2 linked regions of the Homo sapiens genome follow. The gene in region 1 interacts genetically with each later gene. Each region holds a gene or a part of one and is shown in the gene's direction. Other genes may lie near its edges.

Region 1 (3,649 bases):
CCATCTATCTGTTGTCCACTGACCTGTCCACCCATCTGTCTGTAGTCCACTGACCTCTCCATCTTTCCGTCTGTTGTCCACTGACCTCTCCGTCTATCCATCTATCTATTGTCCACTGACCTCTCCATCTATCCATCTATTGTCCACTGACCTCTCCATCTATCCATCCATCTATTGTCCACTGACCTCTCCATCTATCCATCCACTGTCCACTGACCTCTCCATCTATCCATCCATCTATTGTCTACTGACCTCTCCATCTATCCATCCATCTATTGTCCACTGACGTCTCCATCTATCCATCTGTCTGTTGTCCACTGACCTGTCCACCCATCTGTCTGTTGTCCACTGACCTCTCCATCTTTCCGTCTGTTGTCCACTGACCTCTCCGTCTATCCATCTATCTGTTGTCCACTGACCTCTCCATCTATCCATCTATTGTCCACTGACCTCTCCATCTATCCATCCATCTATTGTCCACTGACCTCTCCATCTGTCCATCCACTGTCCACTGACCTCTCCATCTATCCACCTATTGTCCACTGACCTCTCCGTCTATCCATCCATCTATTGTCCACTAACCTCTCCATCTATCCATCCATCTATTGTCCACTGACCTCTCCATCTATCCATCCATTGTGCACTGACCTCTCCATCTATCCGTCTTCTATCCAGGCCTCCATTCATCCCCCATCTAGTCATCCTCCATCCATCCACCAGACATCCACTCCTGCCCCTACCCACCCATTCACTAGACACCAAAATCCGGTGACGAATTATTTGCAGATGGACCCCTGGGGACGTATGTCACGAATGTACATCCCCAGGTCCCATGGTCAGAGTCGGCAGGTGTGAGTGGGGCCCAGGAAACTGCATTTTCAGAAGACTCTAAATTAGAATCAGACATGGCTGCTGTGTGGATTCACCCTTCACCGTCACCCTGCAGAGGAGCAAGGTCCACAGGGTCGCTGTGTTCCCAGTGCGTTCCTGACCACACCGTAACGCCCCTTCCTTCCTCCCTCTCTCACCAGTTGCTTACATTTCCTCATCCCGGAAGCATGACAGCATTAAAGACGACTCGGAGGTGAGTGTGTGGAGCAGCTCGCTGCCATTTCCGACGTCCTCTGGAAAGTCTGTGAGCCTGTCTCTGGGGTAGTCACGGAAATCTAGATGTGAAATAGACATGGTCCGGGGTGTTGCTAACTAATCTTCACGGGTGTGGATGTCTAGAAGGAAGTCCTTATTCTTGGGTCTTACTTCAGGCATGTCCTTGATGAATACCTGCAGGCAGCTGTCCCCGCAGGTGGTCTGGGGACCACACCCTGCGGGGGAAGCCGTGCCCCACATCCTCTCCATTCAGGTGGTACAGTGGCCCAGGGGCTGGCTTTTGAGCTGCAATTTTTATCAAGTTGTGTCTGCACCATGCCTTCCGAATTGTGTTGCCTCATTTGGCCATCCTGGCAAACCCTCTGAAGCCCTTTCATGTCCTTCCCCAACTTGAGCCAAGAGGCTCAACTGAGCCTCACGTCTGTGGCCAGCTCTGCACCATAAACCCTGAGAAGGGAACAGAAGAGCTTGCTGCGTTCTCAGCCTCTGCTCGTAAAACCCAGGGAAGGACTGCACTAGCGAAGCCCACTCCTTTCCAGAGCACCAACAAGTGTCACCCTCACAACTCGTGCTCCTTCCTGGCCATCCTGTGTCTGGAGGGAGGCCGGGGCACTTAGAAAGCAGAATCTGAGGCTGAGCACGGCGACTCACACCTCCAATCCCAGCATTTTGGGAGGCTGCGCACATCGCTTGAGTCCAGGAGCTCGAGAACAGCCTGGGCAGCATAGCGAGACCCTGTTCCTACAAAAATAAATACAAAATAATTAGCTGGGCATGGTGGCACGGGCCTGTGGTCCTAGCTGCTTGGGAGGCTGAGGTGGGAGGATCGCCTGAGCCTGGGAGGTGGAGGCTGCAGTGAGCTGAGATCGCACCACTGCACTCCAGCCTGGGCGACAGAGGAAGAGTCTGTCTCAAAAAAAGCAGAATCCGGCTGGGCGCGGTGGCTCACGCCTGTAATCCCAGCACTTTGGGAAGCTGAGGCGGGCAGATCACGAGGTCAGGAGATGGAGACCATCCTGGCTAACACGGTGAAACCCCGTCTCTACTAAAAATACAAAAAAAAAAAAAGCTGGGCGTGGTGGCGGGCGCCTGTAGTCCCAGCTACTGGGGAGGCTGAGGCAGGAGAATGGCGTGAACCCGGGAGGTGGAGCTTGTAGTGAGTCGAGATCGTGCCACTGCACTCCAGCCTGGGCGACAGAGCCAGACTCCGTCTCAAAAAAAAAAAAAAAAAAAAAGCAGAATCCATTTTGCCGCACAGAACAGCACCTCCCAAGGAACCGCCTCCTCCACCCCGACCTCCTTGCCAGGTGTAGCTTGCGGGAGGCAGAGGCTTCTGTTCTTCCTCGGAGCGCCTTTCTCCTGGGTATTTCTAATAATTATTTCTAATAATGTGTGCCTGCCGGTTTGGGAGCTCTTGGCAGGCATTAGCTGCATTCGCTTTACCTTCCTTCCCCTGAGGGAGGGCACTGATCAGGAAGGATGGGCCCAGGCCCTGGGCCACATGTCCCTGTGGCCACCTCTTCAGCCCCACTGATAGGGCTGAGGGCCTGGGGGTCCCTCCCACCTGCAGCTGTGACCAGAGCCATGGTCTGTGGAACGAACAGCTTCTAGCTTTCTAGCACCTTCCTCAGAAGCACACAGCCTTAAATTCTTACCTTTCATGCCCCAGTTTAGATGGGAGTTTGGGGGTGGGATATGTGGGACGCAGAACTGAGACTCGAATCATGAGGCCCTGGGCTCTGAGGAGCAGGTCTCTGTTGGGACCGCATGAGTGATGCGTGGTCCTCTGAGTCTCCCGGGAACCCCCCTCTCACTTTCTGGGGTCTTGTTCTCCCTCCCTAGGACCTTAAGCCAGTTATCGATGGGATGGATGGAATCAAAATCTCTCAGGGGCTTGGGCTGCAGGACTTTGACCTAATCAGAGTCATCGGGCGCGGGAGCTACGCCAAGGTTCTCCTGGTGCGGTTGAAGAAGAATGACCAAATTTACGCCATGAAAGTGGTGAAGAAAGAGCTGGTGCATGATGACGAGGTAGGTGCCGCTTCTCATGGGGCCCGGGGGCCCGGGAACGCGCTGCCCTGGGGCCTCCTCCGGGCTTTAGCGGAATTAATCCATGCACGAGAGACCTAGCCTCACGTTGACGGAGTTTGTGCAAAATCAATAGTCATGCATCGTGTAATGACCAGGATGTGTTCTGGAAAGTGCCTGGTTAGGTAATGGCACTGTTGTGTGAACATCACAGTGTGCACTCCACAAACCCAAACAGCACAGCCAACTCCACAGCCAAGATGCACAGTGCAGCTCCTGCTCCCAGGCTGCAAGCCCGTACGGCTGTTAGTGCACTGCACACTGCAGGCAGTGAGGGGACCACCACGAGAGCACTCACGTGTCTAAGCTTAGAAAAGGTGAAGATGGGTATCGTGGTCTCTGCAACCTTCTCATGTATGGCCAACCACTGATACGTTGCCTTCCAGCAGACTGCGGTTGAGTTTTAGGATGTCATCACCCTTGTTAGGAAATCTCTGGGGTTGAGCTGAACTGG
Region 2 (3,749 bases), on another chromosome or scaffold:
CTTCTTGTAATGCTAGCAAAAAAAAATGGCCCCCAAATTTTCTTCCTATATGGAAACTCACATGAGCAGCCATCAATCCCCATCATAATTCTTGTAAAAGTTGTAGCATTTCTATTTCTGTTCATGGAAAGAATAAGATCAAGGATCAACTTCTTAATATTGATATGTGTTTCTGAATAAACACTAAATGGTTTCAAAATCTGTTATTACATGACTATAATCTATTCCTGAAGCAACAGCAAACTGCCATTAGCTTGCACATTTAGCCAAATGTTCACAGGCTGGGATATTAGCAAGAACTCGTAGTAACACTTGAAATACATTCAGAACCCAATTTTATGTGCAGGAAGTTTTCTTTAAAATTTTTAAAGCTAGAATACTATTTTTGAGACAAGAACAGGACACAAGAGTATACACTGTACAGATACCTACTTCAAATTGTTACTAAGAATACATGGGATAATTCCACAACTTGGCTTTCTGTGCCTTAGATGGGACTCCTAAAAGGCTCTAAAGTGGGTCTCATATACGAAAAACATGTACTAATAGTTAAAGGATATCATATAAATGAAAATCTCATAAATTTTCAGTGTAGAGACTACCACCAATTACCTTCTCATTATTTCCTTTTGGCTTCAAATTAATTCAACAAATATTCAGGGAACACCTATTGATTTTTTTTAAGGCCATTTTGCTAGGATCTGGGGTTATAGTAATAAAGGTAAACTCCCTGCCATCAAGGCGCTCACAGTCTAATTCTGAACACCACCAAAGAAAAGAGCACATGAGGGTGACATTTCCAGCTCTAAGGCAGCAGAAGGTATGCATTATACATTTTTTGCATACCCTTCAATCAAGCAATAAAAAATCTTCCCGTTCGACCCTGTGGGAGGAGGCACTTGTGTGGTTCGGTCTGGCAGGACCACCGCCGTGTTGAAAGTCCCCCCAGACAGCTGTGCCCAGCACGGCAGTTTCGTTGGGGTCTAGGGAAAGGGCAGGGTCAGACTGGTCACAATCAGGGCTGGAGATTTTTTGGAGTCAACTCTCCCAAAGGCAATGGGGTCTACTGCTTTATTAGGAAAATGGAAAGAAAAAAGGGAGGGAAACAATGTACCCAGGCGCCCCCACCGCATTCTGATTGGACCCACTTAAGCATCTGCAGAAAACAATAAAATGAAAAAAACTCTTAGAGGTGAAACTCAAAGGTCAACCTCTGGCTGTGCGGGACAATGGGTGTCCGGCCTTCCCTTCCCTTCCCTTCCGAAGTGATGAAGGAGTTCCAATGTTCTGCGAACACTGGAAACCCCAGCGGATCCCTCTAACTCCAGGGCAGCGAAACCACTGGCAGCGGACAGAGGGAGGATTGTCGGTGTGTGAATTGCTACCCTGGGATCCGGACCCAGAGCGGCAGCCGCGCCCCTCCGCCCCCCGCGCGACCCCGGGTCCGAGGCACGCTCCCAGCGGAGCGGTCCTGCGCCCCCGCCCCCTCCAGGAGCCGCGGCGCGCACAGCCGGGCTGGAGCGCGCACCCGGCACTGAGGCTTCGCTGCTCTCGGAGCGCTCAGACCGCGGCCGCCGCAGCCGGCGAAAGAGGCAAAGTCCCGCACGCCGGAGGACATGCGCCTCGGCTAGCGGCCCCGGGCCCCACCACCGTGCGGCTTTCTCCAGATTATTCCTCTCTCGCTGTCTCTGACTGTCTCTCTCTGTCTCTGTCTCTGTCTCTCTCTCTCTCACACACACACACACACACACAAACACACATACGCACGCACGATCTCACTTCGATCTATACACTGGAGGATTAAAACAAACAAACAAAAAAAACATTTCCTTCGCTCCCCCTCCCTCTCCACTCTGAGAAGCAGAGGAGCCGCACGGCGAGGGGCCGCAGACCGTCTGGAAATGCGAATCCTAAAGCGTTTCCTCGCTTGCATTCAGCTCCTCTGTGTTTGCCGCCTGGGTGAGTGAGAAGAGCTCGGTGGGGTTTCAGCTCCGGGATCGGTGGGATGAGGGTGGGAGCATTTCAGCGTGTCCGCGACTTGCCGCCGCCGCCGCCATCTAGCCAGGAGGAAAAAGGGACAGCCAACTGGGCTCCCACGGAGCGGGCGGCCGCGCGGTGCAGGCAGCTGCGTGGGATTTGCGCGCCCCCTCCCCGCCCCGCGCCCTCGCCCCTTCCATCGGCCCGCGGGCATTCGTGCCCCGGGCCCCAGGAGACGGAGCTACTGGAGACGGAGGGCTACTCGGATCCCTGCCGCCACCGTTCTTCTCTCCTCTTTTGCAAAGTGTAGAAATCGCCTTTTAGATATACATAGGAAGATAAATGACCAGAAATACAGCTGTGGTGCGGGGCTGTGTACTGTACTGTCTTTTTTGCTGTTCATTTTTATGCTATAGGTATGATGGGCTTAAATGGAAAGTACACGTGTCTGGTGTGAATTGCAGACACACACACACACACACACACACACCTGAAAGGTAGTAACAGGCACAAGCACCAACCTGACTTTTCAGGGTTTTTTTTATTACTTTCAATTTAGTCATATTCAAGTCTGCGCAATTACTTACAAAAAAAAAAGTTCCATCTAAATCTCTAGGTTTGGTCAGTGCTGCCAAAGTCAGAGGAGAGCTGCAGGTTGATATACTTATTCACAGATTTCATTTTTCATCTGCACCCTCCAGGTTACATTTAAAACTGAAATTGCATTCAGCAATAGCCAGTTTAAGCATTCCCTTTACCTGCGATGCAGACTCAAGTTTTCCAGTCATTTTCGAGAAGTGCAAGATTGGACTTTTGCGTTTTATTAAAGAAATGCTTTTTTTCCTTCATGATTTTCCATCGCGATAGAATATAATGGGTTTACGCATTAACCTGAAAGTTACAAAGTGTTGTACTTCGCTTTGTGAGTACACATATTTAATTCTTTTCAGAGGCTCCCAATTTTTCAATTTTAGATGGTTCATAGTAGAGTAGATATTAAGCGTACATTTTCATCCAATAGATGGTGCTGCTCTTGGCACAGTAACCTTTACAAACAGAAACTATTTTTAAGTTCTAATAAATGAAAATTACATTGCAAATACGGTGATAATTGCCCATAGACCCCCACACACGGACATAATTTAAATTTCAAAGGCTTTATGAAAGTGCTTGGGGTGGTGTGATGCATAGTTGACACATAAGACATGCAAGGGAATCTCTGGTCTCCATTGATTCTAAAACCTTATAGTCAGTTCTGGAGAGGGGAAGACAGCTTTAAAAAGTACGTGGTCATCAAACATCTGTTGAATTCACATTTCTATTGTAGATCTATTTTAACAAAGAAGGCAGGTCCTCTTAGTAATTAAATTATGTAAGTAAATATCACAGTAGCAAGGAAATAAACCAGAGAGTATTGCTTTGTATGTCTTCAAAACCACATGCCCAGAGCATGTTGCGGATCTCTTTGAAAAAAAAAAAAAGATAAAATTCACACATTATACAATTCATCTTTTTAAAATGGTCCAGTGGTTTTTAATATATTCGTGAAGTTGTGCAGCCATCACCACTAATTCCAGAATGTTTTAATGACCCCAAAAAGAAACCCCATGTTCCTTAGCAGCCATTCCCCATTCTCCATGACCCCAGCTCCTAGCAACCACTAATCTACTTTCTGTCTCTATAAATTTGCCTATCCTGGACATTTCATATAAATAGAATCATGCAACTTGTGGCCTTTTCTGTCTGTCTTTGTTCACTTGGCATAATGTTTT

The links.
Region 2: changes in PRKCZ (region 1) and PTPRZ1 together harm fitness more than expected from each alone (negative genetic interaction), as found in Homo sapiens cells (one large-scale study listed by BioGRID).

What each region holds. Positions count from the first base shown.
Region 1 is NC_000001.11:2,147,841-2,151,489, forward strand, and holds part of PRKCZ (protein kinase C zeta type), read left to right. Parts: intron 1-1,031; coding exon 1,032-1,084; intron 1,085-2,949; coding exon 2,950-3,138; intron 3,139-3,649. UniProt on the Homo sapiens protein: Calcium- and diacylglycerol-independent serine/threonine-protein kinase that functions in phosphatidylinositol 3-kinase (PI3K) pathway and mitogen-activated protein (MAP) kinase cascade, and is involved in NF-kappa-B activation, mitogenic signaling, cell proliferation, cell polarity, inflammatory response and maintenance of long-term potentiation (LTP).
Region 2 is NC_000007.14:121,871,599-121,875,347, forward strand, and holds the start of PTPRZ1 (receptor-type tyrosine-protein phosphatase zeta isoform 1 precursor), read left to right. Parts: upstream 1-1,562; 5' UTR 1,563-1,901; coding exon 1,902-1,959; intron 1,960-3,749. UniProt on the Homo sapiens protein: Protein tyrosine phosphatase that negatively regulates oligodendrocyte precursor proliferation in the embryonic spinal cord. Required for normal differentiation of the precursor cells into mature, fully myelinating oligodendrocytes.